Homo sapiens: one gene and its partner. The protein of the gene in region 1 purifies or fractionates together with the protein of each later gene. This does not show direct contact. Each region holds a gene or a part of one and is shown in the gene's direction. Other genes may lie near its edges.

Evidence for each region.
Region 2: the proteins of GRM1 (region 1) and HOMER1 purify together in Homo sapiens (affinity purification with western blotting, with the first as the bait; one study listed by BioGRID). This does not show direct contact.

Annotation. Positions count from the first base shown.
Region 1 is NC_000006.12:146,035,396-146,039,226, forward strand, and holds part of GRM1 (metabotropic glutamate receptor 1 isoform alpha precursor), read left to right. Parts: intron 1-3,831. UniProt on the Homo sapiens protein: G-protein coupled receptor for glutamate. Ligand binding causes a conformation change that triggers signaling via guanine nucleotide-binding proteins (G proteins) and modulates the activity of down-stream effectors.
Region 2 is NC_000005.10:79,391,965-79,395,795, reverse strand, and holds part of HOMER1 (homer protein homolog 1), read left to right. Parts: intron 1-3,831. UniProt on the Homo sapiens protein: Postsynaptic density scaffolding protein. Binds and cross-links cytoplasmic regions of GRM1, GRM5, ITPR1, DNM3, RYR1, RYR2, SHANK1 and SHANK3.

The DNA of each region.
Region 1 (3,831 bases):
AAGCCAGATATTGTTACGAGATACTTTATTTGTAATTTTTTAACAAGTGTTCATATCCAAGTAAAACCTTGTTTATCCATAACCTTGATTCTCTAGCTGTCTACTTTATACTTGAGAGTTGGTCTCTTTAAACACCAACATTTACATTTAAAACATTTTATGAGGTGATCTTTGCAAACACTACTGTAAGGTCCCCTAACTTCTTTTAAAGACAGTGCTCAATTTAATGGACATTTTCCTTGAATATACCAAGTTATCGTGAACATAAATTTTTACCTTGCGCTGGAATATGGTGGTAATCTTGGAGCCTGTTAAAAAAATATAAGGCCATTTATTATTACTCAAAATGGCCACAAATTGCCATACTTAAAAATTTTTATCTTTATTTTTTCTTTTATATCTTGGCTGGATTTATTAAACTCATTTTTAAAGTCATTAATCAGTATTTAGCAAACAGCTATTATGTGCATAGAATTAGAGTGAAATCCAAAGACGAAAAAAATGACACTTTCATTATTTTGAGTAAACTTGAACTCTTTGTGATTCCTTTGCCACACAATCACCCTGTGACTACGTTTATCTTGCTGCAAATTTTATAAGAAGCTGTCCTTCATAGGGTAGGTGGTGATGGCAGCTTCCATTTTATGTTTCTACCGTGTGGCTTGGCAGTAGCCATCCTTCTACAAGTATTAAAATTTTTGCCCTTATGATATAGGGAGCTAATATACAATAACTGCTTTGTGGATTTTCAGTAACTGGGCAGTGACTGGAGTGATGGGTTCACAAAGAGACTTATCAAAAGTCGTGTTTTCGGCATACACTTTTTTAAGAACACAGAGGGCTGGGGAACCACATCCAGAAAAGAATAGTTTGGTGAACACCTACAACCACTAAAAAAACTCATGGCACATGCTGTTCTGATATATGTTGGAAACAGCATGTCAGTAGGAGAAAGTTGTCAATTTTCAGAGAAGCTGTAGTTGAAAACCAGAGTCAAGACAAGGCATAAAGCCTTGTCAAAATGTCACTGTCTTATGCAACAGAGAGTTATCATTAGATTCTAAAATTATATAGAAATATTTGCTACTTTTTCCTGTTTAATTGTTCTCTATGAATGTCTACAACATTTAAAATCTTAACTTACATGAGAAATTATAATTTTAATTACCTTCTGTATTCCAGAAAGCTTTACTCTCTTAAACTTAAGGCATTGTAGTACCAAATAGAACATTAATGTTTTTATGAAGAGAATTGCTTCTCAGAAATCTCCAATTATCAATTTTAGGATTATCTATTTTATTTATTTCATAGCCAACAAATTAAATATTCAAGGCAATTATCTAAATATCCAGGTAAAAGCCTTAATTTGTAGTAGAAGCACAGGATTTTGATAGGCAGAAATTCTTTGATTACCTAGTAACTAATTTGCCTTCTAATAAAGACATTTATAAATAAACACGTGACTATTATGCATCACATATTTTTCTTGGTGCTAGTAACACATAAAGTAATAAAAATCAATAATAATAACTATTATTACTACTAATATTTGTTGGAAGAGACATGTAAATATATAGACAGTTATAGGCTCATGGGTTAAAAAGAAAATGTTTAATTACTGTTTTGAAAAATGCACAAAACATATGGGAAATACTGTATGCATGCACATCTCAGTTTCATTTGTAAAATGGGAATTATAATCACTACCATGTTATATTCCTCACAGCAGCTTTTCAAAGAACAAGAAGATGGTACCCATAAATACATTTCAGTTGTTTTTCTTAAACTGCCACCAAAGCGATGACTTCTTCTCAGCTGATGAATATTAAGCAAGTCCAAGAAGCCAGTTAATTGGATACAGATTTTCGACCCTAAACCTAGTAATATAAGATTAAAATGAAATTCATGATTAAGATAAAGGTGTAGCATCTACTATAGACTTTAGGAAACTTTCTTGTTACAAATGAGAAAACAAAAGCCCAGAAAAATAAAACAAAATGACTTGCTCAAGATCATAAAATTCATCAGCAGCAAAGCTAGGACTAATTTAGCTTTGTTTTAGATACTTTCTCAAGCCAAAGTTTTCTTTCTTTCTTTCTTTCCTTTTTAACCCTCATGCACGCCTCTCATGTGAGGTCCATACTATTTAGCTCAACTGTGTCTTTCCAACTTTGCTGCTGTCATTTAGCAGCTTCTAGGAGATTCCTCTTCTGAAAACTCACTCTGCTGTTAGTCTTCCTCTTAATGTCAGCTCTTACCTTAGTTTTGGATGACTCCAACATTCATGTGTTTGTCCCACCAATACCTATCCTCATAGCTCATTGATCTCAGCTCTGTGTTCCTTGCCTTCTCTTTAGCAACCCACTTACCCTGACCACAATCTGGTACCCTGGCCTTGCCAATAACTATTTTATTTATAAATTTTTAAACATGAGAAAGTCACTGAAAAATAGAAGCCTCTCCTTTTCTTCAACTTCTTTTGCTCCCACCTCACCTGCTCTCCACATTTCTCTGGAAGGTCTGAATAAAGCCATTTTCTCAGCTGATCTGGTTTCCCTTCTGCATCTGAGCAACTCTACCTCCATATTTGTGCTTGTTATCATCTTGTAATAAAAGTCCTTTCGCAGAGAAAATAAACTTTCAATGTAGAGTGACTGCTCCACATGAAGCTCTATTTCAGGAGATTATGAATTAACCATTTTTTTTTCTCCAGCTCCTTCAGGGCAGAAATGTAAAATAAGACCAGAATTAAACACCTTGTTAAAATGAAAGAAGAAAGGATGCCTTCTCTATGAGGGTTGTGGTTAACAGTGGGAGATGACACATGGTCAGACATCTCTGTGACACCATCTCTACCACAAGTAACTAGAAGTGGTATGGAGTGGATAAGGATGAGAAAATTAGAGAAGGGTGGCTAGAGTTGAAATCCAGAGATCTGGAATAGGATTGACTCAAGGGATTAATAGAATTAGGCATGCTTAGAGAGCTATCAGGGTGAAGTATACAGAAAACAGTCCCCTAAGTTTATTATACAGATAAGATGCAACAGTGCTCCATATAGGGCTAGGTAGATGTAATAGATGTAAGATGTCATTATTGTTGTCATGCTATTCTAACCTTAATTAGGAAGATGCCCTTAGCTTAGATGAGCCTGTGTGAAGTAAATACAGGGAAGTTCTGTGGTGGAGATGTGAAAATAAAGAGGGAAAATGCTGATTTACTAACACTGAGTGGCGCATATTCAACTTCTCATTCTCTCCCTTTATAAAAATTGCACTCACAGCATGTGGCCCTCAATGCAAATCTTTTGATTGGACAGCATATTCCACAGCTATTGTTAAACAATCAGAGACAGTTTCCTCTGTTCTCTGTGGTGCTATAACACATTTTATAATTTGTTTGTTATAAAAGGTAGAACAAAAAAATCAATAAACAAATTGCTGATAGTATGTTCAAGAGAAAAAAACTTTATGAAAGATTTTAAAAGGTTATATCAGGATATTGAAATAGTGGAAACAGCTTATAATAAAGAAATTCAATATCCTTTTTTTTCGATAAATAAATACATTATTTGTTATTTTCAGGTTTTGGTTAACAGGTACTACTCTACTGGCAGAGAAGAAGTCATGTCCAGATTCCTATCTCAATTTTTATGTTTTGTAGCACATTCTTTGGTTTGACCAATGCTATAGTCATTGAGGAGTAGAGATAGTGGAATTATAGTCTTCCTTTTAAGAAGTTCACCACATGGTGATTACTATTCAGTTTTGCTAAGTGCAACCATAGGAGTAGGCATGAGGTAGAGAGACAACAGAGAGAACTGTGATTAGC
Region 2 (3,831 bases), on another chromosome or scaffold:
AGCTTGGAGAGGTTAACTTGTCCAACCTATATTTAAATGGAGACAGTCAAATTTTAAAATCCAAATCTTTGACCACTAAGATAATGGTCAAAATACATTATTTTAGTAGTCAAAGACATGGGCTTTAAACCCCTTCATAATAATCCTTCATGAAATAAACAGATTCCTTATATAAAATGGAATATTTACCTCTCCCCTTCCCATCACTGGCTTTCAGTAGTCTGGGAAAAATGAGATCACTTGTTTTGGTTGGCCCTATTAAATGCCGTTTGTATATTTTAGTCGTCTATATAGATTAGTGGTCATCAACTTGGGGCACTTTTGAAGCCCAGGGGACATTTAGCAATGTGTGCAAACATTTTTTATTTTCACAATTAGTGGAGCGCCACTGATATCTAGTAGACAAAGCCAGAGATGCTGCTAAGAATCAGATTATCCAACCCAAAATGTCAATAATGCCAAGGTTGAGAAATCCTGATGTAGAACTTAAATATGAAGCATGGAATCAGGGCTGGAAGAAAGGGGGAAATTCAGTCAAGTTTTGTCTTTCGTTTGTTTTGGGTTTCGGGTACTTGCGATGATTCAAGCATATGTTAAGCACTTAACTTACATTAGCTCTAATTCTCACAGTAGCAGGTGAGGTATCCCCATTTTCAAAGAGAAGACAGCAGTTCAAAGGTGTTAACAAGTTTAATTAAGGCACTTAGCTAGAAAGTAATGAGGCCTAGATTTATTTTATTCCAAAGTCCGTTCTTTCTGCATTACCACACTTCTTCAAGCAACAAACAGTCAAGTCATCCTTAATGATTCTTTTAAAAAGTATTTTCAGTTATATACACATTTACATTGTCTCACTTATGAAGAGAAACAAAGAGATGATATATTTATATCAAATTTCTAATGTTGATAATTCTAAATGTATTTGAAGCCAGGCATAGTTGCTTATGCCTATAATCCCAGTGCTTTGGGAGGTTGAGGCAGGAAGATCTCTTGAGGCCAGGAGTTCAAGGCCAACCTGGGCAACATAGCGAAATGCTGCATCTACAAAAAAATGAAACAGTAGAATTAGCTGGGAGTGGTGGTGTGCACCTGTAGTCCCAGCTGCTTGGATCACTTGAGCCTCGCTTGAGTTGGGAGTTGCAGTGAGCTATGATCACACCACTGCACTCCAGCCTGGGTGACAGAATGAGACCCTTTCTCAATAAATGTATGAATGAATGGATTTCATCATTGATAGAGCAGTAATTGAATTTTATAGCTGGCACTTGAAATTGTGAATATAATTCTTACCCATCCTTTCACTGAATATCAAAAATATTATCAAAACAACCTACCTAGAACAGGACAGGGAAGCTTTTAGAAAACCTGAGGATGAATTCTAAAAGAACAAGCTACAGAAAATAACATATTTTTTCCAATTCAAAGAAATTTCCTCCTCTGCAGCCTTCTCCCTCCCACAGAAACATCTCCTGTTTATCAAAGGTCCCAGCACCCTTGAACTCCATTCATAAGTTCAGTACAGAAAATTGGGATCATTAAATTCCTTGGAAAAGAATCCTGAAATTGCAGTATTTAGAGTTGGATTAGTATTTAGAGTTGAATGTGGATAGAAAATGTATAGTTATTGGTAAATTAAGGATACCGTGCTACAGTTTTTCTAATTTATGAGTTTTTGATATTTGGCAATATTTGGATATTTCTGTTATAAATGTCTATGAAAAACATGCCCATTGTAAAAAAAATTAGAAAAATTTCAAAAAATGTACTTAGCAAGGTTAGTATAAAATCATAATTCCATAATATTAAAAAAATCATAATCCTGTCATCTTAAGGCAAGGTAACTGGCATTTCCTTGTCCCAGTGTTGGTTTAGATAATATTTTCTTTATAAGAGATGGATATAGATACCATTTTTTGTTTGTATACATTTTTATCTAACTTTATGTCATAAGCCCAATGGCTGCATAGAATTCTCCCATATAGAGGTATCATAGTTTTCTTCCAGCATTCCTATAGTAATGGCAGTTTATGTTGTTTCCAGTGTTATGCTATAAATAAATAATATTACAACCTTTTTCATAAATCTTTGCCTTTCTGATTATTTCTTTAAGATAAACTTTCAAACAAGAATTGCTTGGTGTCAATGTTTTAAAATTTCTTATGCTGGGAAATTGACATCTGGAAAAGCAGGGTACCCACTGGATATTGGTACCCCCTGGACCCGTTCTTTGCCATCTCTTAAGAAATGAAGTGACTCAACTATTTAGTTAATTTTTAAATTATGAATAACATTGAACAATTTTTCACATGCATTTAGTCTTTACCTGTATCTTGAAGTCACGAGTGCATTTTCACCTTAGAGCATGTGGAATATCTTTGCCTGGAATTCTTTGCCCAAATCTTCAGATGGCTGGCTTCTATTTTTAGTTTAGGTCTTAGTTCAGATGTTAATTTCTCTGACTTCCCAATTTAAGGACTATGCTACAGTCCCCACACCCCATCCCAGGTATTTTTTGTAGTATTACCATTTTTTATTTTCCTTTTAGTACTTATCACTAGCTGAAATGATCTTGTTTTTTATTTCTATTTTGTTTTTAAGCTATTTATTTTTATTTCAATAGGTTTTTGGGAACAGGCAGTGTTTGGTTACATAAATAAGTTCTTTAGTTAAACTTTTTATTTTGAAATAATTTCAGTCTTACAGAAAAGTTGCAAGAATAATACAGAAATTTTTTATATACCCTTTACTTACATTCCCCAAATGTCATTTTGGCTATATTTGCTTTGTTTTATTCTGGATGGCTCTCTTCTCTCTCTCTCTCTCTCTCTCTCTCTCTCTCTCCCTTTCCCTTCTTTTCCCTCCCTCCCTCGTAAGACAGTGGTAAGTATTCATGTATTTGTATCTAAGCACATCTAAACACAGAAAAGGTAGAGTAAAAATACAGTAGAAACGATAGAAAAGGTACAGTAAAAATACAGTAGAAAAGGTAAAAATTGTACACTTGAATAGGACACTTATCATGAATGGAACTGTAGGACTGGAAGTTGCTCTGGGTGGGTCAGTGAGTGAGTGGTGAGTGAATTTGAAGACCTAAGATATTACCATACACTGCTGTAGACTTTATCAACACTGCACTTAGACTACACTACATTTATTTTTTAAAATGTTATTTCTTCAATAATAAATTAGCCTTAGCTTACTGTAACATTTTAACTTCATAAACATTTAAAATTTTTTTAACTTTTTACTTTTTTGTAATAGCTGCAAACATAAACATGTATTCAGCTGTAGAAAACTATTTTCTTTATATCCTTAGTCTGTAACCTTTCTTCCTATTAAAAAATGTTTTTAAAACTTTTTAAACTTCTTTTAAAAAACGAAGACACAAACACACATATTAGCTGATGCCTACACAAGGTTGGGATCATCAATATCACTGTTTTCTACCTCCACATCTTGTCCCACTAGAAGGTCTTCAAGGGCAATAACAGGCATGGAGCTGTCATCTCCTATGATAACAATGCCTTCTTCTGGAATACCCCCTGAAGGACCTGCCTGGGGCTGTCAGATAATTAATGTTTTTTTAAATAAGTAGAAGGAGTACACTCTAAAATAACTTGAATAGTAATAAATAGTATAGTATAATAAATATATAAACCAGTGACATGGCCATTTATTTTTATTAAGTATTATGTACTATACATAATTGTATGTGCTATGCATTTATACAGCTGACAGCACGGTAGATTTATTTATATCGGCATCACCACAAACACATGAGTACGGCATTGTGCTGTGATGATATGGCAGCTGCTGGGTGATAGGAGTTTT